Linked DNA regions of Homo sapiens. The protein of the gene in region 1 purifies or fractionates together with the protein of each later gene. This does not show direct contact. Each region holds a gene or a part of one and is shown in the gene's direction. Other genes may lie near its edges. The genes, in order: USP49, PPP5C, NUDCD3, CETN3, HADHA, PPP6R1 and ANKRD28.

Evidence for each region.
Region 2: the proteins of USP49 (region 1) and PPP5C purify together in Homo sapiens (affinity purification with mass spectrometry; one large-scale study listed by BioGRID and IntAct). This does not show direct contact.
Region 3: the proteins of USP49 (region 1) and NUDCD3 purify together in Homo sapiens (affinity purification with a luminescence readout; one large-scale study listed by IntAct). This does not show direct contact.
Region 4: the proteins of USP49 (region 1) and CETN3 purify together in Homo sapiens (affinity purification with mass spectrometry; 4 studies listed by BioGRID and IntAct, with this or other methods). This does not show direct contact.
Region 5: the proteins of USP49 (region 1) and HADHA purify together in Homo sapiens (affinity purification with mass spectrometry; one large-scale study listed by BioGRID and IntAct). This does not show direct contact.
Region 6: the proteins of USP49 (region 1) and PPP6R1 purify together in Homo sapiens (affinity purification with mass spectrometry; one large-scale study listed by BioGRID and IntAct). This does not show direct contact.
Region 7: the proteins of USP49 (region 1) and ANKRD28 purify together in Homo sapiens (affinity purification with mass spectrometry; one large-scale study listed by BioGRID and IntAct). This does not show direct contact.

Annotation. Positions count from the first base shown.
Region 1 is NC_000006.12:41,804,876-41,808,375, reverse strand, and holds part of USP49 (ubiquitin carboxyl-terminal hydrolase 49), read left to right. Parts: intron 1-1,364; 5' UTR 1,365-1,392; coding exon 1,393-2,748; intron 2,749-3,500. UniProt on the Homo sapiens protein: Deubiquitinase that plays a role in several cellular processes including transcriptional regulation, cell cycle progression or innate immunity.
Region 2 is NC_000019.10:46,385,087-46,388,280, forward strand, and holds part of PPP5C (serine/threonine-protein phosphatase 5), read left to right. Parts: intron 1-2,006; coding exon 2,007-2,149; intron 2,150-2,279; coding exon 2,280-2,367; intron 2,368-3,194. UniProt on the Homo sapiens protein: Serine/threonine-protein phosphatase that dephosphorylates a myriad of proteins involved in different signaling pathways including the kinases CSNK1E, ASK1/MAP3K5, PRKDC and RAF1, the nuclear receptors NR3C1, PPARG, ESR1 and ESR2, SMAD proteins and TAU/MAPT.
Region 3 is NC_000007.14:44,389,659-44,393,158, reverse strand, and holds part of NUDCD3 (nudC domain-containing protein 3), read left to right. Parts: intron 1-673; coding exon 674-862; intron 863-3,500.
Region 4 is NC_000005.10:90,399,757-90,403,256, reverse strand, and holds part of CETN3 (centrin-3), read left to right. Parts: intron 1-3,500. UniProt on the Homo sapiens protein: Plays a fundamental role in microtubule-organizing center structure and function. As a component of the TREX-2 complex, involved in the export of mRNAs to the cytoplasm through the nuclear pores.
Region 5 is NC_000002.12:26,196,133-26,199,632, reverse strand, and holds part of HADHA (trifunctional enzyme subunit alpha, mitochondrial precursor), read left to right. Parts: intron 1-1,855; coding exon 1,856-1,942; intron 1,943-3,500. UniProt on the Homo sapiens protein: Mitochondrial trifunctional enzyme catalyzes the last three of the four reactions of the mitochondrial beta-oxidation pathway.
Region 6 is NC_000019.10:55,235,018-55,238,517, reverse strand, and holds part of PPP6R1 (serine/threonine-protein phosphatase 6 regulatory subunit 1), read left to right. Parts: intron 1-1,547; coding exon 1,548-1,605; intron 1,606-1,696; coding exon 1,697-1,875; intron 1,876-3,500. UniProt on the Homo sapiens protein: Regulatory subunit of protein phosphatase 6 (PP6). May function as a scaffolding PP6 subunit. Involved in the PP6-mediated dephosphorylation of NFKBIE opposing its degradation in response to TNF-alpha.
Region 7 is NC_000003.12:15,668,980-15,672,479, reverse strand, and holds part of ANKRD28 (serine/threonine-protein phosphatase 6 regulatory ankyrin repeat subunit A), read left to right. Parts: exon of another isoform or gene 1-846; coding exon of another isoform or gene 847-870; exon of another isoform or gene 871-1,120; intron 1,121-1,923; coding exon 1,924-2,210; 3' UTR 2,211-3,500. UniProt on the Homo sapiens protein: Regulatory subunit of protein phosphatase 6 (PP6) that may be involved in the recognition of phosphoprotein substrates. Involved in the PP6-mediated dephosphorylation of NFKBIE opposing its degradation in response to TNF-alpha.

The DNA of each region.
Region 1 (3,500 bases):
CCACAAGGCTTCTCTGATTATTGAATTGAAGAAGCATTATTGGGAGGGGGAAAAAAAAACATGCTTAGGATGTTCTACTGTTTTAAAAAGCATTTTCATATATATCAGCTGGAAGATTCGTTGCTTTTTTTTCTTTTGTTTCGGTAGTTTGGTTAAATATTATACCAGTAGCCACTTCACCTCTTGTCCTAAGTCAGATTTGTCCAGTTCTTTACTTACCTTTCCTTTCAGTAAAGAAGGTAAAAGTTTTCCCACCCTTACTGCAAGATGCAGATGTTCTTTTCAAAAAGACGGATGTTGGCTGGGCGCAGTGGCTCGTGCCTGTATTCCCAGCACTTTAGGAGGCTGAGGCGGGCAGATCATTTAGGTCAGTAGTTCGAGACCAGCCTGGCCAACATGGTTAAATCTCGTCTCTACTAAAAATACAAAAAAATTAGCCGGGTGTGGTGGTGCGCGCACCTGTAATCCCAGCTTCCTGGGAGGCTGAGGCAGGAGAATCGCTTGAACCAGGGAGGCAGAAGTTGCAGTGAGCTGAGACTGCACCACTACACTCCATCCTGGGTGACAGAGGGAGGCTCGACCTCAAAAAAAAAAATACATAAAAAACAAAAAATAAATTAAAAAACACATATACGGCTGTGCACGGTGGCTCATGCCTGTATTCCCAGCACTTTGGAATGCCGAGGTGGGCAGATCACCTGAGGTCAGGAGTTCGAGACCAACCTGGCCAACATGTTGAAACCCCGTCTCTACTAAAAATACAAAAATTAGCCGGGTGTGGTGGCGTGGCGTCAGTAATCCCAGATACTCGGGAGGCTGAAGTGGGAGAATCGCTTGAGCCCGGGAGGTGGAGGTTGCAATGAGCTGATATCCCGCCACTGCACTCCAGCCTGGGCGACAGAGTGACCCCGTCTCAAAACAAAACCACATATACAATGTTCCTTAGTCACGTCTCATAAAAATGATACTTTGTACTGGTGAGGACTTTCTTTCTCTTATTTCTATCTTATATCATGTTATCTCTGCTTTGAAAAACATTGCAATCGACCTAAAATTGACTTTTTATTTGAGTTTCTTCATCTCTCCCACTGGTATGTGAAACACCATAAAGTTTCAAATTTGTGCTAACCCTTCCGTAAGAGTCTTCCTTTTTAAGTAATTTAACTGTCCTGTAACTCTCTGCCTTTATACCAAATGTGCCTTTTTTTAACTTTCAAAGGAACCAATTTGGAGTTGAAAATGAATGAATCTAGAGTTGAAATATCAATTGCAAGCCTTTTACTTTTTTTTTTTTTTTTAAGGAAAATATTTTTCTAAAAGTGTTTTCTTTTTCTTTTTCTTTTTTGGGGACTCTGTCGTGCCAGGTTGAGAAAGTGGCGACTTCTATAAGACATGGATAGATGCAAACATGTAGGGCGGTTACGGCTCGCCCAGGACCACTCCATCCTGAACCCTCAGAAGTGGTGCTGCTTAGAGTGTGCCACCACCGAGTCCGTGTGGGCCTGCCTCAAGTGCTCCCACGTGGCCTGCGGCCGCTATATTGAGGACCACGCCCTGAAACACTTTGAGGAGACGGGACACCCGCTAGCCATGGAAGTCCGGGATCTCTACGTGTTCTGTTACCTGTGCAAGGACTACGTGCTCAATGATAACCCAGAGGGGGACCTGAAGCTGCTAAGAAGCTCCCTCCTGGCGGTCCGGGGCCAGAAACAGGACACGCCGGTGAGACGTGGGCGGACGCTGCGGTCCATGGCTTCGGGTGAGGACGTGGTCCTGCCGCAGCGCGCTCCTCAGGGACAGCCGCAGATGCTCACGGCTCTGTGGTACCGGCGTCAGCGCCTGCTGGCCAGGACGCTGCGGCTGTGGTTCGAGAAGAGCTCCCGGGGCCAGGCGAAGCTGGAGCAGCGGCGGCAGGAGGAGGCCCTGGAGCGCAAGAAGGAGGAGGCGCGGAGGCGGCGGCGCGAGGTGAAACGGCGGCTGCTGGAGGAGCTGGCCAGCACCCCTCCGCGCAAGAGTGCACGGCTGCTCCTGCACACGCCCCGCGACGCGGGCCCGGCTGCCTCGCGCCCCGCCGCCCTCCCTACCTCACGCAGAGTGCCCGCCGCCACACTCAAGCTGCGTCGCCAGCCGGCCATGGCCCCAGGCGTCACGGGCCTGCGCAACCTGGGCAACACCTGCTACATGAACTCCATCCTCCAGGTGCTCAGCCACCTCCAGAAGTTCCGAGAATGTTTCCTCAACCTTGACCCTTCCAAAACGGAACATCTGTTTCCCAAAGCCACCAACGGGAAGACTCAGCTTTCTGGCAAGCCAACCAACAGCTCGGCCACGGAGCTGTCCTTGAGAAATGACAGGGCCGAGGCATGCGAGCGGGAGGGCTTCTGCTGGAACGGCAGGGCCTCCATTAGTCGGAGTCTGGAGCTCATCCAGAACAAGGAGCCGAGTTCAAAGCACATTTCCCTCTGCCGTGAACTGCACACCCTCTTCCGAGTCATGTGGTCCGGGAAGTGGGCCCTAGTGTCGCCCTTCGCCATGCTCCACTCAGTGTGGAGCCTGATCCCTGCCTTCCGCGGCTACGACCAACAGGACGCGCAGGAATTTCTCTGCGAGCTGCTGCACAAGGTGCAGCAGGAACTCGAGTCTGAGGGCACCACACGCCGGATCCTCATCCCCTTCTCCCAGAGGAAGCTCACCAAACAGGTCTTAAAGGTGGTGAATACCATATTTCATGGGCAGCTGCTCAGTCAGGTATGTGTGTGCCTACCATGACAATGAGAGGCTTGTATGTTAGCTTGGGCTTCCTGTGAGTGCCTTCCCCGGGTTATTGGGCTAATAAGAGTAGCCCACATTTGCTGTGATTATGCAATTTGGAGGGTGGCCATTATACCTTTCATTCTGCTGTACATTATGATGGCCTTTTGGGGAAACTTGCCTAGTGTCTTTCCGGCCAGATTTTTAGTTTAACTTGCCACATCGCTTAATTTTCAGTGAATATCTTTAATTGTTATTGAAGATAGGGGTAATATAATATTCTCATTGTTATAATTAAGTACCCATTGTTGGTGTGCCATCCTTTGATCAATTTGAGGGAACAGAGTTTGCTTGTAACCCTGGTTCCATAATAGTTTGAAAGAGCAATCTCCCTTCTTTACATACAGGGAAGGTAGGTAGCTGGGAGCATGCTAAAGGCCAGTGCAAGCCTCCTTCCTGTTCCCCATTACCTTTTATTTCCTGCATCTTTAGCCATGTAACCTAAGCAAAAATGCTTAGACAGGGCCTTGCGAGAATATGCAGAAAGAGTATTTCTATAGTTAAAAAAAGGCAGGTGTGCCGGGCACGGTGGCTCATGCCTGTAATCCCAGCACTTCAGGAGGCCAAGGTGGGTGGATCACCTGAGGTCAGGAGTTAGAGACCAGCCTGGCCAACATGGTGAAACCCTGTCTCTACTAAAAATACAAAATTAGCCGGGCGTGGTGGCGCATGCCTGTAATCCCAGCTAC
Region 2 (3,194 bases), on another chromosome or scaffold:
TTTACATCATAGATAGTGTAGAAATGGATGTTTACTCTGACCATTTTTCAGCAGATGGCAAACAAGGGTGTGAGGATGGGCCCCTTATTCTAATTTGCACAAGGGCATGAAACAGGCTCCTGGGTGGCCCTAAATCTGGCACTAAAGCTGAGTGACTGAGTGAACAGACCAGGGCTCGAGGGTGGGAGTAAGGAGACTGTTGACGAGGCAGTTGTGCCCCCTCAGATTCAGGCTTGGTGTCAGATTTGGGTTCTCTTGATTGAAGTAGAGCCCGGAGCTGAGTGTGCTGGTTCACACCTGTAATCCCAGCACTTTGGAAGGCCCAGGTAGGAGGATCACTTCAGCCCAGGAGTTTGAGACCAGCCTGGGCAACACAGTGAGACTTTGTCTCCAGTAAACATTTTTTAAAAAGGCCAGGCGCAGTGGCTCATGCCTGTAATCCCAGCATTTTGGGAGGCCAAGGCAGGTGGATCATCTGAGGTCAAGAGTTCGAAACCAGCCTGTCCAATGTGGTGAAACCCCGTCTCTACTAAAAATACAAAAATTAGCCGGGCATGGTGGTACACGCCTGTAATCCCAGCTGCCTGGGAGGCTGAGGCAGGAGAATCGCTTGAACCCAGGAGGCACATGTTGCAATGAGCCGAGATTGCGCCACTGCACTCCAGCCTAGTCGATAGAGTGAGACTCAGTCTAAAAAAAAAAAAAAAAGCCAGGCATGGTGGCACCGTGCACCCGTAGTCCCAGCTTCTTGGGTGGCCAAAGTGGAAGGATTGCTTGAGCCCAGGAGTGTAAGGCTGCAGTGAGCCATGATCACACCGCTGCACTCCAGCGTGGGCAACAGAGCAAGACCCTGTCTCTTTGAAAAAAAAAAAAAAAGTAAGAAACTTGGAAGTAGAGCCCAGAGTATTTGCTGGAGGAACAGACACAGGTGTGAGACAAAGAGGGAACGAAAGGGGCCCTCTAGGGTTTTGGCCGGAGTATCTGGAGGGCTATGGCTGCCAGTGACGAAGACGGGAACATGTAGAGCAGGGTGTGGCCAGGAGCTGAGGAGCTCCCCTTTGGATGTGGCTGAGACTCAGGAGACATGGGATGTGGGTGGGGTTCCAAGGGGTGTTGAAAATGTAGGTTTCTTGGTGTCCAGATGAGATTAGACAAGAGGAGCTCACTGGGATGTGAGGGCCACACAGGGGAGGCCCTGCCCATGGCGGGGCCGGGGTGAGTTGGGAGGTGAGTGATAGGCTGGGGCGAAGCCTGCATGCCCGTGTCCCTGGGCTCACAGGGTTCACGCAGCAGTGTCCAGCACAGGGTCAAAGCTCAGGAAGCCCGACTGTGGGCCTCGTTGCAGGAGGCAACAAGTGCTCAGGCCGAGAAGTCAGACAAGCAGAGTCTGAGCAGATGCGAGACTGGGCAGCCTTCTCCTTGCCCCCAAGCTCTGGAAGGGAAGAAGGAGGCCGGGTGCTTGTGTCTGAGACAGAAGGATGGAGCTCAGGGTGGGGTGGGCTGGGGCACATGTTCTGTAGATGGGCCTACTTTTTGGTTTTGAGACGGTCTTGCTTTGCTCTGTTGCCCAGGCTGGAGTGCAGTAGCATGAGCATAGCTCACTGCAGCCTCTGCTTCGTGGGCTCAAGTGATCCTCTGGCCTCAGCCTCCCAAGTAGCTGGCACTATAGGCACGCACCACCATGCCCAGCTAATTTTTAAAATTGTTTTATAGAGAGGTCTCAGTATATTGCCCAGGCTGGTCTCAAATTGCTGGGCTCAAGCAGTTCTGCCTTGGCTTCCCAAAGTGCTGGAATTATAGGCGTGAGCCATGGTGCTTAGCCATGGACCTACTTTTTGTCAAGATTCCCCCCTTGGTACCTCCAGTCTGGAAGGCACCGCAGTGGCAAGTGCGAGGCCCATGGGGGCAAGGGACGCATGCACAGTTCTGGGCCTTGAGGGTGCCAGGCTGGAGGACACTGATGTACCTGGAGGCTGAGCTTTCTCTTCTGTCCCCGTGTTGGCCAGGCAACCACGAGACAGACAACATGAACCAGATCTACGGTTTCGAGGGTGAGGTGAAGGCCAAGTACACAGCCCAGATGTACGAGCTCTTTAGCGAGGTGTTCGAGTGGCTCCCGTTGGCCCAGTGCATCAACGGCAAAGTGCTGGTGAGGACGGCGCGAGCCCTGAGTGTGGGTTCCCCACCCAGCCACACCTGGGCAGATGTGCTGGTGAAGGAAGTTGGGGCCTGTGGGTGGGTGGCACCTTCCCTCACAGCGGCATCCCCCATCTCCCCAGATCATGCACGGAGGCCTGTTCAGTGAAGACGGTGTCACCCTGGATGACATCCGGAAAATTGAGCGGAATCGACAACCCCCAGATTCAGGTGAGCAGCGCGGGGCCAGGTGTCTCCAGCAGAAAGGGGCAGCCTGGGCTGAGCTCTCCCCTGCAACCCAGCCCTGCCTCGGAGGATGGGCTTTGTGCCCTTGGCAAGAAACAGCGGGTCTGAGCCTCAGTTTCCTCACCTGCGACTTGGGCCAGTGCACCTCCTTCATGGGGCTGTGATGGCAAGCACGGTCGTGACCATGGTGCGGGGTGAAGGCACGGTGACCGCCGAGCACACCTGTCCTTATTTATTTGTGAGTTCAGCTGTGGAACCCTGGAAGGAGGGGAGGTCTTGGGGCTCCTGTGCTAGTGACGGGCACACTTCAGAGAGTTCACCCACAGGTGCACACGCACGTGCACACTGTGAGTGCTGCAGAGGACATGGATTGGGTGGGCTGGTGCTGGGTGCTCAGGAAGGCCTCTCCAGGGAGGCGAGGTTTGAGCTGACACTGCGGGAAGCAGAGGCATCTGCCGTGCACAGAGCCTGGCGAGCATATTCCAGGCTTGAGGAGGGGTCCTAAGGCAGGGAGAAGTTGGCGAGTGGGCAGGGCTGTGCTTTGAGGGCTGACATTGGACATGGGGTTCACTGGGCCCAAATCCTATGGCGCTTTACAGGCCCCAGTGAGGAACTTTGTTCCTAGGGCAGTGCGGAGCCACCAAAGGCTTTGAGTGGGAGAGGGGCCTGATCTGAATAGTGACATTGAAAGCTCTATCTGGCTTCGGGGCCACAGGGGATTGAATGGGGTCTGGAGGGCAGATCAGCAGAGAGGGTGGGGGTGGCTCAGAATCACAGTCACCTGTCCTGAATGTCCATGTCCATGCTGGATG
Region 3 (3,500 bases), on another chromosome or scaffold:
TTAGGGAATGGGGCTGGAGGACCCCCTCATGCAGCAAGCTTGGCCCCAGTGAGGAAGAAGTGGGGACAGGGCATGGTGCCCTGTCATGGGGTGAGGACTCCCCAGGAGATTCTGTCATGCATTAGGCTGAGCCCTAAGTCTCATAGGTCCCAGCTTACCCCTAAGATAGCAGAATGTTGGATGTTGCTCTTGGAAGCAAGAGAGATCACTGGAGAGGTAGTTGGTTGATAAGAGCTAAGCAGAGCCTTCCATGGCAAGCATGGGGGCAGGCTGGGTTGGCCCAGGACAGGTCCTGGTGTGGGGGGGTGTCATGGGTCTTGGAAAATAGCCTTTCTTCATGAGAGTGGGCAAGGTGTGCACATGGAACAGGCACTGTCCTGAGTATCCAGGACCTGCTGAAGAAGGATAAAGGCATCTTCCAGAATGTCAGTCCCCTCAGGTATGTGCCTCCTAGCTCTTCCCTGGGATATGTTAGCACAGGCAGCAAATGCATTCCCAGGCACAGAGGGTCCTGCCTTGGGTTCTGGCACCCCCTCTTGTCTGTCACCTCCCTTTGTGTAGTTGGTCCTGAGCTTATCCTGGACACCCATCCCTCAGTGGGCTCTGCTCTGTCCCCAGCCCTGGACACCTGTCTCAGGTCTCTGACTCAGGTCTCTGTCCTGCTTGTCCCCAGGTGAACCTGAGCAAGGTGGGCGAGTATTGGTGGAACGCCATCCTGGAGGGAGAAGAGCCCATCGACATTGACAAGATCAACAAGGAGCGCTCCATGGCCACCGTGGATGAGGAGGAACAGGCGGTGTTGGACAGGCTTACCTTTGACTACCACCAGAAGCTGCAGGGCAAGCCACAGAGCCATGAGCTGGTACGAGCATGGCAGTCCTGGAGAGTCCACCCTTTAGGCCCTTGTGCTGGTGACAAGGCCGATAGTGGCAGAGGGGTTGGTGATGACGGTGGGGAAGAAGGTTGTGTGGACCAGCTTCCTGCCATGTCCTAGCCTAGCAAGGAACCTGTCTTACCTGCTCTTGTCCCCAATCACTGCCTCACAGGTGCACTCTGGTCTTTCAGCTGTGTTCTCATACCTGGGCTGAGAGCCCAGTTAACAGGACCTCGAAGGGTGTCATGAGATCTGCCCTTCCTGCACCAGAGCCTGGTAACATCAAGTGTGTTGATGGCTTTTGTTTGTGCCTCATCTGCACATATCTTCCCATGAAGAGTCGCTTGGTGGGACCTTTGGTAGAGGAGGGGAGGGAGCCAGATTGCAGAGCCAGTTTCTGGATGTTGGAGGCCAGCATGTGAAGACTCTGTGATGTCAGCAGTGGGTTAGGGAGGAGGAAGAGAAAGGTTCCTGTCTGACCAGTGTAGTGCCCAGTGTAGAGTTTGCTCATGGCCAAAGAGAATGATTAATTAGATGTATACATTCTTTCTTCCTATTTTAATAACTCCAAGAGTAGCTATTTAGGGAAAAAAGGGTTGCTTTCCTCAGATTATTTTTAACTTCCCGTGTCCCATATACCCAGCACGTGGGTTTGGGCCGCAGTACAGCAGGGCACGCGGACGCAGTGCAGCCTTGAGTCAGTGGGGAGGGGTCATCTGCTGGGCACAGTCTCCTTATTTTTGTTCTGTAAACACGGACCGCCTCCTCCCCCTGAAGATCGCTGATCGATATTTTCTTCTCATTTTGTCTCTTGGAGGAACCTTACCTTGTGGTGTATCTGGATTGTCTTAGTCTTACCTTCCGGTACAGCACGTATTAATACATCGTAGGTGGTTCTGCAAGCCCTGTTGCTGTGTCTCGTCCGTTCTTGCCTATTTTCACAGACAGGTGCATCCTGCTCTTATGAGGTGAAGGAGCCTGCGGAGAGGAGTGTCAACATGTTCTCCTCACCTGGCCCTGCCACACCAGGGGCATGTCCTGAGCACTTAGTACACACAGTTAAGGTGGGGTTGACTGGCTGCACAGTACCCCTGAAAATACAGTTTGTTTGTTTTTTGTTTTTGTTTTTGTTTTTTTCCCCCCACAATAGAGAGATTGAATTTCTGAGGTTGTGACTCAGTAGCTTAGGCAGCAGGGATGGGGTTTGACCTCTGATTTGATTTCACACCTGTCTGTCCTCACAGCCCTGTCCACCCTGGCCCTTGTCTCTATGGAAGAGAATGTTCCTCTAGGTTTGGCCCCCTTTTCCACCCGGGGCATGGCAAGCTTAAAGGACATCTTTGCTTGGCCTACGTCCATGCAGAGTTTGAAGCCTCAGGTAGTATTGCAGCACCTGCTCAGCTGAGCTCAGCTCAGGTGCTTAGACAGCCAGACCTGCCTGGTTATGGCTCATTCCAGTTATGCTGCATTTGCCTGTGGCCACTAGATGAAAGGCCAGCCTTTGAACCTTTGCCCTGTGGGTAGGGCTTCTCATGGTAGTGTTTGGGGATGGTGTATGTGAGGGTCTGCCCACTCTGTGCCCATATTCAGCATTGGGTCCACAAAAGGACTGAGATGTATTCATGAGTTGACCTTCGGGAGAAAGAGTCTGTTTTGACTGGAGAACATGAACCCAGATGCCTTTTGTTCCAGAAAGATAAGAAGGCAGTCTTACCATGTACCCCTTAGAAGTGTCTTTTTGTGCCACAGGATGGAGGGACTAAGGTCAGGTGGTTTCTCACATCTTCCCCAGACACTGACACTGAGCCTTTGTTACAGAGAGATGATAAAAATTATTGTAGTTTGAATGGTATTTGTGCGTTTGTCAAAGCCTTGATGAAGTTTTTGTAGACTTTATTTTATTTTATTTTTTAAATTTTTTGAGACAGAGCCTCGCTCTGTCACCCAGGCTGGAATGCAGTGGTGTGATCTCAGCTCACTGATACCTCCGCCTCCCAGGTTCAAGCGGTTCTCCTGCCTCAGCCTCCTGAGTAGCTGGGACTACAGGCGCACACCACCACGCCCAGCTAATTTTGTATTTTTAGTAGAGACGGGATTTCACCATGTTGGCCAGGCTGGTCTCGAACTCCTGACCTCAGATGATCCACCTGCTTTAGCCTCCCAAAGTGCTGGTATTACAGACGTGAGCCACCACGCCTGGCCAGTTTTCTGTAGACTTTAGCTGTTGAGGCATGAGAGAAGCTAGGATGCTCTGGCTGTTTTTATCTGTGAGCCCTCATGTTTCCTGTGATTGTATCTCTTACAGAACTTTATATTCAAAAACAAAATAGCAGGAATACCTGCTCATCATTGGAGTTGCCAGTAGTGCCAAAGACACGCATGGAGGTGTCAGGGGCTCCACCAGCCTTTTCTTCTCTACATCCTTGCCCCTCCCCTTCCCTCCTTTCTTTCTGTTTCCCTTTTCTTTCCCTTACATCCTCCCCTCTCCTTGACCTTCCTCTCAGTCTCTTTCCCCCATCCTTTATGTTCTGTGCCAACACCTTGTAACATTGCATAGTCTCACCCCTCTATTGGGGCACGTCGGTGAGGAAGACAGACACAGATCTGCCTTTGTGGTGCTAGGATT
Region 4 (3,500 bases), on another chromosome or scaffold:
TTGGGACAGATGATTCTAAATCATAACATTTGAGTCCTAGTTTTATGAACTACCCAAGGACACTGTTCCACAGATATATCTGGATGAAGTTTGGCAGTTAACTATTATAGACTCTTCCTAGTACTGGAAAAAAGCTTTAAAATATATTTAATTTAAGTTTAGAGTCAAGACAGCCTGAGGCTAGTGAGTAACATAGATATTTTAGGAATTAGTGTCTTTAAGACTAACATAAGTCAAACGTTTGTACACTATTTTTGACATGTACTACTTATTATTGCTGATTGAGATTGTAATACTGTATTATTGTCTTCATTTTGCTTATTTAACACTGAATTTTTTGGTATTAGGTACTGTACTGGGGTTGGGAAGAAGACTTAATTAAAAGTTACTAAAAGGTTCTTCTTTCAGGGAGTTTACAATGTAAATATAGGTGACAACAGGCTATAGTACTATGTGGTAAATTGTAATTTTGTCTAGGACAGAAGTCAGCAACTATAGCCTTTGGACCAAATTCAGCTGCTGCTTGTACACCACCACACCCCTTCTTTTATGCAGCTTTTGTGCTACTATGGCAGAGTGAGTAGTTAGAGACTTTATGGCCCTCTACAAAGCCTAAAATATTTACTATTGGCCTTTTACAGGAAAGATTTGTTAATCCCTGATCTAGAGGAATTGAAGTCTTTGCAGAGGAGATTTTAAATTTAGGCCTTTGGAAATGTGAGTAAGATTTCATTCCAAGATTGCCAGGAAGAGTAGAGAAAAAGCATTCTAGGCTTAGAAAGCAGCAACAACAAAGAATGGTACTAGACGGATAGCATGTTTGGGAAACTAGGTAGTGTTCTGGGCTAGACATAGGGAAATGACTGGAAACATAGGATTGGGCCAGATTGGTAAAGTCTTGCAAAACATGAAGATTTTGAATTCTAGTCAGCAGAGATCATTCACAATTTTTAAGGGAAGGGGATATGATATGTTTGAGAAAGAAAACTGATGAGAGTATTATTGATGATGAGTTGGAAGGAAGAGAGACTGCAGACAGAAAATACTATTTTTTTCGCTGAGGATGGCGAGGGTGAAAAGAAAATACATTTAAGAATAAAAAAGAGGCTGGGCTTGGTGGCTCATGCCTGTAATCCCAGCACTTTGGGAGGTCAAGGCGGGAGGATTGCTCGCTCACAGGAGTTTGAGACCAGCTGGGGCAACAAAGTGAGATCCTGTCTCTACAAAAAAATTTTAAAAAATTAGCCAGACATGATGGCACATGCCTGTAGTCCCAGCTACTTTGGAGGTTGAGGTGGGAAGATTGCTTGAGCCCAGGAGTTGAGGCTGCAGTAAGCTGGGATCACGCCATTGCACTCCAGCCTGGGCAACAGAGCGAGACCTTGTTTTAAAACAATAAATAAATTAGAAAAAAAACAGTATTCTCAGTACTATAGGACCTGATTAAGTTTGTGGGACTGAAAATGATTTATGCTTTTCAAATATGGAATCTAGCTGTAAATGTTGCTGTTATCTTTTGGTTGGGGTAGGGGAGGCAGCTGCAGTTACTATGGTGGTAGTGGAATGAGTTTGGAGTCCAACATGTCTAACTGGTATGTTTGGATAGAAATTTCCGAAAGACATTGAGAAATACAGTTAAAGCTGTATTTCTAGCATTACCTATAATAATTTTTAATTTACTTTTGATGTGATGTTTTTGGATTTGCCGTATTCTTAAGTGATTTTTACACATTAAAGGTCTAAGAAAGTATTTTGATGAAGTACATTTCTGATAGTATGTGTAATTAAATCATTTGAAAATACAGTTGCATGGACAGAAATTTGGAGTTTTGTGAAATAAATGAAACCCACCTTAACTGCCTCTATATCAGTTTACTAATATTTTCATTGAAAATAAATATATTCCTTATAATTAAATTCTACTTTGTGGAACAAGAATAGAACCTGAAGGCATGGAGGAGAGTCATTATAAAGTTATATATTAGGTAATGTTTTTGCTGTCCAAAATGATGAGCATTTATAATTCCCAAGAAAAGCTGCATTTTAAGGAAGAATATTGATAAAAGAATATATAGACACATAGCTCTGAAATAACTAACACAATTAAAGTACCAGTGGGATAAGAATTTATACATCTTGGAGCCCCATCTGTTCCCCAATCACCCTGTTGCTTCTTTAAGTACATTAATACTTTCAGCAAGCTGCTTTTTTGGTTCACCTGTCATGTAAATTATTTAATTGGTGAAGAAAATTTCTTAACACTTTTTTTCCTTGTCCTGCTTTTTTGTTGGGACTAAATTCAAAATAAGTTGAGTATGTGCCATAGAGTTAAGTGTGGTATTTTATTTTGGTGTTATGGCTGTAGATATGCCAGCTTCTTTTTGACTGAATATTTATGAGCTTTGATGATTTGCATACTTACAGTAATATACTTCAATTAGTTACTTGGAAGCCTTTTTGGATAAAATTAATGGATAAAAGGAAACTATTGAAAATATGTGTAGATGATATAATAGTCATTTGAATAGGTGATTATTGAACCAAATACGGGTGAAACAGCAGCAAAACAACAGCTTGTTGGAGACTTCGATTGTATTTTTTTCATTCTGGGTTCCTTAAACATTCCAGTATTTTCCATCTATAAGCAGTTGCTTTTTTTTTTTTTTTTAATGATTCTGTAACCTTCAACAGGACCGAGTTATTTTTAATAGCATAGTAAAGGCCATAAATACCTTTTCTTGTAGTGGCAGATAGTGTATATAATTACTTCAGAGATACTTATTTAGATACTGTTAGAATTTTATTTAGTAACTTACCAATTTTTATGCCATAGATTTTTATTTTAATTTTTATTGTGGCTATTGATTAAAGACTGGTAAAATTGAAAATACTTAAGCTTATTACTATGTTATTACATGTGATTATATTTAGTGTATTAAAATACACAATTACCATTGAGGTTTGAAACTACATTTATTTTTAGTTAGTTGTCTGAGAGTGATTTATCCAAACAAAATGGGTAAGCTTTAAGGAGACCTTCTTTGCAGAGGTTTTTTTTGGGTGGGCTTTCCTGCTATAGTCAGATTTGATCCTATTTACTACTTTGTAAATTTTGGAAAACCAAGAGGTTCTTCTAATCACAAAGGTATTAGTGGAATTTTCAAATGCTGTCTGAGATTGTGCCTGTGTCTGCGATGGCAGTACTTTTTGTCTCTTGCAGTTTTTCTTGTTTTGAAGTTGGATTAAATTTGAGGAAGAATCAGTGTTAGTATGACGTTTAGTCAGCAAGCAGCTTTTATTTAGTTAGCTCCAATTATTTTGTTGGTATGTCTCTCCACAGGTAGATGACACACTCCTTGTGTGCTTGATGTCAGTGGAGCCTAGTACAATTCTTGATAATAGTAGATCTTAAATAAATATGGTATAAATGTAGTCCTTTTTATTTTGCCTCTGTGTGATATAGTTTTGCTTACTTTTATAATAAGACAAGTTGCTCATGA
Region 5 (3,500 bases), on another chromosome or scaffold:
TAAAAACAAGTCACAAGACCAGCCCAGATTCAAGGAGAAGGGAAACAGACTCTACTTCTAGCTGGGAGAAAAGACATACATGTCCAAGGAAGGGAAGAATGTTTGCCAGCCAGCTTTGGAGACATTAGTTTGCTCTTCAGAAAGGATTTCACCACCAGCATTAGACACTATATTACTAAGAAAGTAACCTGACACTACGTAAGCTTTCTGACAGTCATGCTGTACTGTCAATTCATTCCACTTTTGTTTTGTTTTTTTGTTGTTAGAGACAGGGTCTCACTCTGTCACCCAGGCTGGAGTGCAGTGGCATGATCACAGCTCACTGTAACCTTGAACTCCTGGGCTCAAGCGAGCCTCTCACTTCAGCCTCCTGAGTAACTAGGACTATGGGTATGTACCACCATGCCTGGCTAGTTTTTTAAAGTTATTTTTTGTAGGGCCGGGCACTGTGGCTCACACCTGTAATCCCAGCACTTTGGGATGCTGAGGCGGGTGGATCACGAGGTCAGGAGTTCAAGACCAGCCTGGCCAAGATGATGAAACCCTGTCTTTACTAAAAACTACAAAAAAATTAGCCAGGCATGGTGGCAGGTGCCTGTAATCCCAGCTACTCGGGAGGCTGAGGCAGGAGAATTGCTTGAACCCAGGCGGCAAAGCTTGCGGTGAGCTGAGATTGCACCACTGCACTCTAGCCTGGGCGAAAAAGCAAGACTTTGTCTCCAAAAAAAAAAAAAAAGTTATGTTTTGTAGATATAGGGTCTCACTATGATGCCGAGGTTGGTCTTGAACTCCTGGCCTCAAGTAATCCTCCATCCTTGGCCTCCTGAAGTGTTGGGATTATAGTTGTTTAGCCACCATGCCCACCCTCCACTCTTGATTAACTAAAATCATGGGATCTTTATCACAAATACTGCCAAGCCAGGTCTTGTCCTTCAAGTACCTATACAGTTCTTTTCTTTCCTTTTTTTTTTAAATCTTAAGGCAGTACTTTACTTTTATTGCATTATAATCTTATTTTGTACTCAGCTTTTCAGTGTGTTGAATGTGTCTTCCTCCTTGATTCTCATCTCTGTTAGGATTCTGCCTGTTCCAGATTTGCACACATTTGACAGGTGTCCCTTCCACGTTTCTCATCCAACCATCTGAATAAAAACATGAATAACTGGGAGGCGGAGGTTGCAGCGAGCCTAGATTGCACCACTACACTCCAGCCTGGGCAACAGAGCGAGACTCTGTCTTTAAAAAAAAAAAACAAAAAAAAAACATGAATAAGTTGGGATCGTGGCCAGAATGCGGAGACAATCTGCATTAGAGACTATTCTCCAGGTGGATAAAGCTAATAGTTAATAGTATTTGTGTACTGTAGCTGCAACTATAGTGGTATGCCGTTTTTTAGTAACACACTGTATAAAATGAGACAAGCATGCACATTTTGGCTTGTTCTTATAAAGGTGAAGCGGGGAGTGATTCAGGGCAGATCCAAACAAAAGAGGAGGTGACACCCATGCTGGGTGTTGAAATCAATGAATTGCAATTCAAGGCCGTCTTTTCAGTGTTGTTCTAAGCTGTTTTATTGACCCAACTGCTGAGATGTAGTCTCCAGGTCAGGATAAGGTGACCTTATGATGGGCCATAACTAGAGGAAGGCAGAATGGGAAAAGGAACAAGGTCAACATATTCCCCGACACAAAACCCCCTAGGTGATCCGTCAATGTCTGGGTGAGTGACATCTACTGTCTGAGCAGTTGTGGGGGACAGAGTGGGCTGGGCCCAGGTGTCACTCATTAGCTTTGATGTGGCCTCTAATCATCTCCCAGGCCTACCTGACACATTGTTAAATGCTTTTCCCCTGCAGGTGATTCCAGATCACTGTATCTTTGCCAGTAACACATCTGCTCTCCCAATCAGTGAAATCGCTGCTGTCAGCAAAAGACCTGAGAAGGTAAACTCGGAACAGAGAAAAACCCTGAGATGTTTTATTGCTTCAGATTCACTGATAAAGGCTTACAGCTTGAGTACAGAAGAGACAGTGGATTACGGAGTGGATGCGGGTGGTTCCTAAACACTGGACACAATAAATGCTAATACCATGACTAGTGTGAGATGCAGGAGTAAGTTAAGTACAACAAAAAATATCCTTTTCAAGGATCCCAAATGGGCATTATTTTTCAGGTTCAGGATATAAAGCCCACCTGTATCCTAGAATTAGGCATTGAAGGATAGGCCTTAAGAAAGGATGCTCCAAAATACCAGTTTGGCTACAGAGCAGAGTCAGTGACTGTTTAGAACAGGTTTGGTTCCACCTCCAGATCAGGGAATGGCAGGAATGGTGGGATGTGTCTGCCCGTGGGTTTGCTTACACCTTCTACCCCGGGACATGAAAGGGCTGGGTATAGAAGCACTTTCTGTGAGTATTTGGAATGATGCCCAGAAATTTATTTTTGCTCTCAACCAGAGTAATTAAGGGGAAGTGAAATCATTCAAAGAGAAGTAAAACAACTCACTTCTCTGGAGGATACCAGTTAGCCTCTGCTAACCAGAACCAGCCGAAGGTAGGCAGGAATTATAAAAGAACTTTAAGCAGCTGAAAGTGTTAATACAAATTCTATGTACTGAAAACACAAAAGCCTATTTATTCCTACTCTTCTAGCTTGCTAATGCAAGGTAATCTAGTTTCCTAGCACACAGCAGATTAGAAGTGATGCGGGGACCTGACAGAGGCAGGCTCAATGATGGCAGGCTAAAGGTCATAGGGAGAAGTTGCAGCCGATAGTCTACAGATGGACAGTCTGGCCATGTCATATCACTCAAGACATCTGTGTGGCATCTAAAATCAGTACAGGCGATGCCGTTGCTGTTCATTTGATGGTAACCTCTCCCCGCCATCGGAGCAGAGCAAGCATCACACTTTGCAGTTCTGCCCTCCAAGTATCTAGGACAGCTTTTCTCACCTGCTTGCCTTTTGTCATTCATTTAAAAGTAAGGCCAAAAAGACAAAATAGGGTGACCAACCATCTTGGTTTGCCCGGGAGCAAGGGATACAGGACCCTCAGTGCCACAAATTGGGAAATCCCCAGCCATCCAGGATGAGTTGGTCATCTTTGGCACAACTTTCTGAGTGATGTAAATATATTTTGCTTGGGTTAGTGATTATATGGATGTATATACAGTTGTCAAAACTCATTGATGTGAACACTTCAAGATCTGTGCATTTTATTATATAGAAATTCTACATCAATAAAGGCTAATTCCTTTTGCTCAGGAGTACTGAGTCTGAATCAGGTCCTAAGTATTTCAGATGTAAGTAAAAGAACACTTTAGGGGTTAGAAACAACTTTTGGATTGATAAGTTTACATAACATTTACTTGATCTGTGTATTACATAATGGCATTGGAGATAGACAGACCTGTGATGGAATCCCACCCCGTCATATGCTGACTGACTCTGTACTACTAACCTCTTGATACCTTTTTTCCTCATCTAGATAATTAGGCTGACC
Region 6 (3,500 bases), on another chromosome or scaffold:
GTCTTGCTCCCCACGATGAGCTCATTTACGGCCAGGGAGACTGAGGCCCCAGGACATAGCTGGTTAGTGTGTGGGAGCTGGATGGCTGCCCATGGCTGCCCCGGGGTCCCTGTACAGCACAGCGTAAGGGACACCACGATGAGGGATAGTCAGCTGTTCCTGGCTTAGTCCACAGCTGGACAGAGGTCCTCTCAGATGCAGACGTGATATCCTGTGTTGGCTGCTTCTGTGCCCAGCATGGAGACTTGCAGAGCGTTGGTCTTTGTGGGTCAGTGGCCTGTGCCGAGACCCCTGGAGAAGATGCTCAAGTGAAAACTGGGCTGGACACAGTGGCTCACATCTTAATCCCAGCACTTAGGGAGGCCGAGGCAGGAGGATCGCTTGAGTTCAGGAATTTCAGCCCAGCCTGGGCAACATTGTGAGACCATCTCTGCTTTTTTAATTAAAAAAAAAAAGAAGAAAACCCCACCCTGGCAGGAGAATGAAGGGACTGACTGGTAGATGGCATTGGGGTCACCAGCTGCCCCTTTCGGGATGAAACTGTTAGCTTTTCCTCTACCAAGAAAATTCCAGAGGGGTTAAGAAGTTAAGTGAACAAAACTAAACCCAGAAAGATTTCCGGAATGGAAAGTGGATGACTGGTTTGATCATCTCAAGGCTGAAGATGCTGCCCCGCATAGCTCCTGTAGCAGAAGCCAGGTCAGCTGAGGCTGCCAGTGCCACGGGGACATGGGCTGCCCTGCCCTAGACCCACTGTGTGCCCAGCGTGGTCTCTGCTCCGCTGCTTCTCAGTGTCTAGGAGGGACTAAGGACACTTGCCTTGGAAGGTGGTTGTGAGAATGAAGTGCGTGAGTAATGTCTGTCACATACTTAGTGTCCTTTAAGAATTAACTGTCCTTTATCCATTGATCTTTGTGGCAGAATTTTTCATGAATTTGAGACAAATGATCCCTTGAACTGTCCGTAACACGTGGGACAGAATGTGGACCCTGATCATTAGACCCTCGTGGTGAGGGAGGTGGGGCCCTGGCAGGCACAGTTTAAGTTTTGACGTGATTCTTTTTCCCATAATTTAGAATTTCAGCCGCGGACCGTAGACATCTTGAGGTTAGGGGATGTGCTTTATTGGGCTGTAGTCTCACATTCTGCTTGTGCCTGGCTGGTGTGAGTGTCAGCCTCCTACAGATGCCCCAAGGATGGGGACAAGGGCATGGATCTGAATCCCTCTCTGGCACCTGTCCTTGGAAGAGCCTGAGGAGAGTCGCTTAACATTTCCGAGCCCCATTTTCTCACTTCTAGAGCCAAGGGAAACAGCCTACCTCAATGAGTGGTTTTAAGGATTTAAAGTGATCATATGTGAGATGTTGATATTCATGTATGCGTTGCCCCTTAGGACCAGTGGTTCGGGTTGTGTGTGAATTTGCAGATACCAAATCTGCAAGTAATGAGGGTCAGCTCTGTGTTGAGTGAAGAAAGAAATGTGGCCTGTCCTGTGCTGCCCCCACCCCCAGGTGGACCTTCTCACCATGCCTTGCCTTCTCTCCTAGCGCACCTTTTGACAAGACAGCCAACATCACCTTCTCCCTCAATGCTGACGATGAGAACGTGAGTACTGCCCTGTCCCCTGGTTGTGGCGGGTGGAGGGGTGTGGGGCTGTGGGCAGTGTGGCCCATCCTCCCACCCCTGTGCCCTGCAGCCCAACGCCAACCTACTTGAGATATGCTACAAGGACCGCATCCAGCAGTTTGATGATGATGAGGAAGAGGAGGACGAGGAAGAGGCCCAGGGCTCAGGGGAGTCTGATGGAGAAGATGGCGCCTGGCAGGGCAGCCAGCTGGCCAGGGGGGCCCGTCTGGGCCAGCCACCTGGTGTCCGGTGAGTCCCCCTCCAGTTTCCCTTCTCCAAGCTTCCACCACACGGCAGGGCCAAGGGGTCCCCCCAACACATTTGGACTGAGGCTGAAGTGAATGAAGAAAATAAGGAACCTGCATTGGTGTGTGTATTAGTTGGGGGCACTTTCACTTTTGAGTGATAGAAATCTAATTCAAGGCCAAGCATGGTGGGCTCATGTAATCCCTGAGTGCCTGTAATCCCAGTACTTTGGGAGGCCAGGGCAGATGGATTGCTTGAGCTCAGGAGTTTGAGACCAGCCCTGGGCAACATAGGGAGATCCTGTCTCTACAAAAAATACAAAAGTTAGATGGGCATGGTGGTGTGCACCTGTAGTCCTGGCTACTCGGGAGGTTGAGGTGGGAGGATGGCTTGAGCCAGGGAGGCAGAGGTTGCAGTGAGCCGAGATCATACCACTGCACTCCAGTCTGGGCAACAGAGCCAGACTTGTCTCAAAAAAAAAGGTAGATGATGCATTAAGAAATCAACAAATTAGCCGGGCACAGTGGCTCAAGCCTGTAATCCCAGTACTTCGGGAGGAGGCCAAGGTGGATGGATCGCTTGAGCTCAGGAGTTTGAGACCTAGCCTGGGCAACATAGCGAAACCCTGTCTCTACAAAAATTACCTGGATGTGGTGACGTGTGCCTGTAGTCCCAGCTACTTGAGAGGCTGAGGTGGAAGGATCGCTTTACCCTGGGGGGCGGAGGTTGCAGTGAGTTGAGATCGCACCACTGCACTCCAGTCTGGGTGACAGAGACCTGGTCTCAAAAAAAAAAAAAAAAAAAAGAATCAACAAATTAAAAAAAATCAGCCGGGCACGGTGGCTCACGCCTGTAATCCCAGCACTTTGGGAGGCTGAGGCGGGCGGATCACGAGGTCAGGAGATCAAGACCATCCTGGCTAACATGGTGAAACCCCGTCTCTACTAAAAATACAAAAAATTTGCCGGGCGTGGTGGCGGGCACCTGTGGTCCCAGCGACTTGGGAGGCTGAGGCAGGAGAATGGCGTGAACCCGGAAGGCGGAGCTTGCAGTGAGCCAAGATTGCGCCACTGTACTCCAGCCTGGGCGACAGAGCGAGACTCTGTCTCAGAAAAAAAAAAAAAAAGGAATCTAATTCAAATGAGTTAAGTTATGAAAAGAAAGGGATAATCTCTGTGGCTGAAAAAATAGGCAGGTCCTGAGGTATGGCTTGGTCTGTGTGTGTCTCTCTCTTCCCGCCTCCCTGTCTCCTTCCTTCATCCCTTCACTTCACTTCCTCGTGTTAGCTCTCACACGTTTTCCTAGAAAGGGGGGTAAGATGGTCCCAGGCAGCTTCTCTCTTCTCTAATTCCAGTAAAATGAGAGATGATGACGTCCCTCTCCAATCAGGCTGTGATGACATTTTAGTGCAAATGTTACATTGTTTTTTTTTTTTCTCTTAATACTGGCCGGCCCCAGAGTCGCTGTGATGAAATGGGTTCATGCCATGTAGATTTGACAGCCTGAACACTAAGTCATCATCTGCAACTGAGTTTTTGACTCATGACTTTTGATTTCGGAATTAGGCTGTTTTCACTTTTTATTGACATGTAACATGCGTATAGACAAGTGTACATACAGATCCTGAG
Region 7 (3,500 bases), on another chromosome or scaffold:
AATGGGAACTTTACAAAGGGGGAAAAATTACTTTTTGTGGCTGGGCACAGTGGCTTACTCCTATAATCCCAGCACTTTGGGAGGCAGAGGCGGGAAGATCACTTAAAGCCAGCAGTTTGAGACCAGCCTGGGGAACAAAGCGAGACCCTGTATCTACAAAAAAGTTTAAAAATTAGCCAGGCATGGCATGTGCCTATAGTCAGAGCTAGTCAGGGGGCTGAGGTGGGAGGATCACTTGAGCCCAGAGGTTGAGGGTGCAGTGAGCATGATCATTATACTGCACTCCAGCCTGGGTGACAGAACAAGACCCTGTCTCAAAAAAAAAAAAAAAAATCCTTTTTTTATCAAGGCCAATATAGCATAGATGAAAATATGTGGGAGAACTGGAAGCAACCAGATGCCCAGTAGTTGAAATGTATAACTAAACCATAGTATAATCACACAATGAAATACTGTATAACAATGAAAATGAACCAACTACAGTTACATACAACATTGATAAATTTCATATAATGCTACACAAAAATGCCAGATATGAAATAATACATACTACATGATTCCATTTATATTAAGTTTTTTAAAAACTCTAAACTGTAGGCTGGGTAAGGTGGTTCACATCTGTAATCCCAGCATTTGGGAGGCCGAGGCAGGCAGATCACTTGAGGCCAGGAGTTTGAGACCAGCCTGGCCAACATAGCGAAATCCCATCTCTACTAAAAATATAAAAAATTAGCTGGTCATGGTGGCACACACGTGTAATCCCAGCTACTCAGGAGGCTGAGGCAGGTGAATCACTTGAACCCAGGAGGCAAAGGTTGCAGTGAGCCAAGTTTGCACCACTGAACTTCAGCTTGGGTGACCGAGCAGACTCTGTCTCAAAAAAAAAAAAACAAAAAAAAAACTATAGTGTTTATGACTCCAAGTTGAAAGCAAGGAAATTACTACCCCATAAGTCAGGATAGTAGTTACCATTGTGGAAGAAGAAAGGTGTAACGACTGGGTAGAGGATATATGGAGGCTTCTGGTATGCTGGTAATGTTCTCTTTCTTAATCTGTATGGTGGTTATACAAATGTATGTTATGTGATAAAACTATTAAAGTTCCATATGGTATAATTGAAGCTTGGCATCACACTATTATCACTTCTCTCCCGCTCCGTCCTCAAGACTGAGTCTTGTACCAACTGAGGTACCAAATGTTTCCTCCTTGGTTTGCTGTGTTGACACTTTGTGGTAACTTACGACTAAGGTCAGTTGTCTTCCGCTTAAAAAAAGGGAATATTTACAAAGGAAATATTTGTTTTGATTTAGTAGTTTTTAAAGTTCATCTGCTTAGTTTGTCTACTGTTTTTCTTCAAGAGACTGTGACCCCAAGAGAAAAGTTAAATTGACAACTAAGTGTCATTCATTCAACACATATCTTTTGAGCACCTGCCCTGTGGCTGATTCATGAAGCTGTACACATTTAAGATTTCTTAGCATCAAAAAGTTTCCTTACATAACTACAAATTAAATTTTTTTATTTTTTCTTACCTTGACACTGATATAACTGCAAATTAACAGTAAATCTCTGCCTACCATCCTGAAAGAATATTCACGATATGTGGTGTTTTTCTTATTCTAGCCCAGTTTTTTCTGTGAATTCAGATGGATACGGATAAGTTGTGAGACCTTGGGGAATCATTCTTCTCTGGGCCTGCTTCCTCTTCTGTTGTCTAGTCTAACATCCCCTTCCACCCTAGGTTTCTATGGCTATTCTTTTTCTACTTATTAGAAACTTGCGAATCATGCTGGTTACAGCAATTTATTATAAGCTAAGTAATGTAAAATATGTCTAAAGTTGAAGTACTTTAGGCTTATTTCCTTGTCTTTGGTGAAATACATCTCAGGATGCTTAATTTTTAAATTTTATCTTTAATTCTAGGCTATACCCCAGCTTTGGCCTGTGCTCCCAATAAGGATGTGGCTGATTGCCTGGCTCTCATTTTGGCCACCATGATGCCTGTCTCATCAAGTAGTCCTTTATCATCCTTAACATTCAATGCCATTAACCGTTATACCAACACCTCAAAAACAGTCAGCTTTGAAGCTTTGCCCATCATGAGGAATGAACCTAGCTCCTATTGCAGTTTCAATAACATTGGAGGGGAACAGGAGTACTTATACACTGACGTGGATGAGCTCAACGACTCCGATTCTGAGACCTACTGAGAGGCTGAGGAGGAGGGAGTTCTCACAGTAAAGCTTCAAACTGTGCTTTTTCAGGAAAAAGGCACTTTGATATTCACGTAGAAATTCAACCTAAGAGGAAAGATCCCACAGTGAGCCAATGTTAAGAGATCTGATGGCATTAGGAGGAAGAGTTTTAAAGGCAAGTTTTACAAAAGGAACTTCTAGAATCTTGAAATAGACCTGACTGAGGAAAACACATTGATGTCAGAATTCTTTGTGGAATTGTTTAATTTGGTTTTGCAGTGCCAGGAACAATTGGGGACACTGTGCACTCTAACCTGCTTACACAAGCAACACTATTGTAACAGAAGAAATAAAGACACTAGATTTAAATTTTATCAATAAAATTACAACTAAATTTAAAGGCAATAAAAGTTTGGTACAGTAGGCATTATGTGCACAGCAAATTGCAAAAGGACCAAATAACTGAAAGGTTTTTTTAATAAAATGCCATTTTGTGGAAACTGGAGTAGATTAAATGAAACATTACCTAAACCAAACTGCAATATTTCTGGAAATGAAGCTGAGATTTGGTTTTAAATGTTGAGTTTTTTTGGGTTTTGTTTTTTTTTTAAGAAAACATCTGAAAGCCTTCCAATGCTGTATTAAACCATGAGAGAAAGCAGATGTATTTTTACATTTTTTTCTTTTACAGAACTATTTCAAATTTCCAATTTTTATACTATTAGAATTAAAAACCAGCTGACTGGGTGCAATACGGGTGAAAATACTTGTGACATAGACATTGAGATGGATTGGGGTCAGGCTGTTGCCCTGTTTTGAATGGTTTGGGTTTAAAATAGTACTATTTTTGTTTGAAAATGTAAAGAATTTCCTAGAAAAAAATTCATGAAATCAAAAAGTAGACTATTTCACCCTATTGCAGCTAAGTGGTCCTGGGGCATGGAGTCTTCAACCTCTCTATGAATGGCACACCTTAGTCACTTATGTTACTTTTGTGTCCCCACCATGGGTTGGGGGATTTTTTGTTTATTCTGATCTATGAGTTTTGAAAAAGTGAATAATCAAAAGGAAAATAATTCCTTGTTGTTCATAAATTAAGCATCACTAAAGTCTCTTGAAAGGCATTTCTGTATTGGGCAAGATTTAAAATACTAAAGCCTTAGGTCCTATTCATATTTAAAGTAGCATGTTTGTAACCTGTTACTATTTGGAGAGAGAAGCAGTTGCCTGCCAAATTGAAGACTACCTTTCAAATAGCAAAAGAGAGAGAGAAGGCTGATATTTCGGCTTTTAAATAAAGATTTG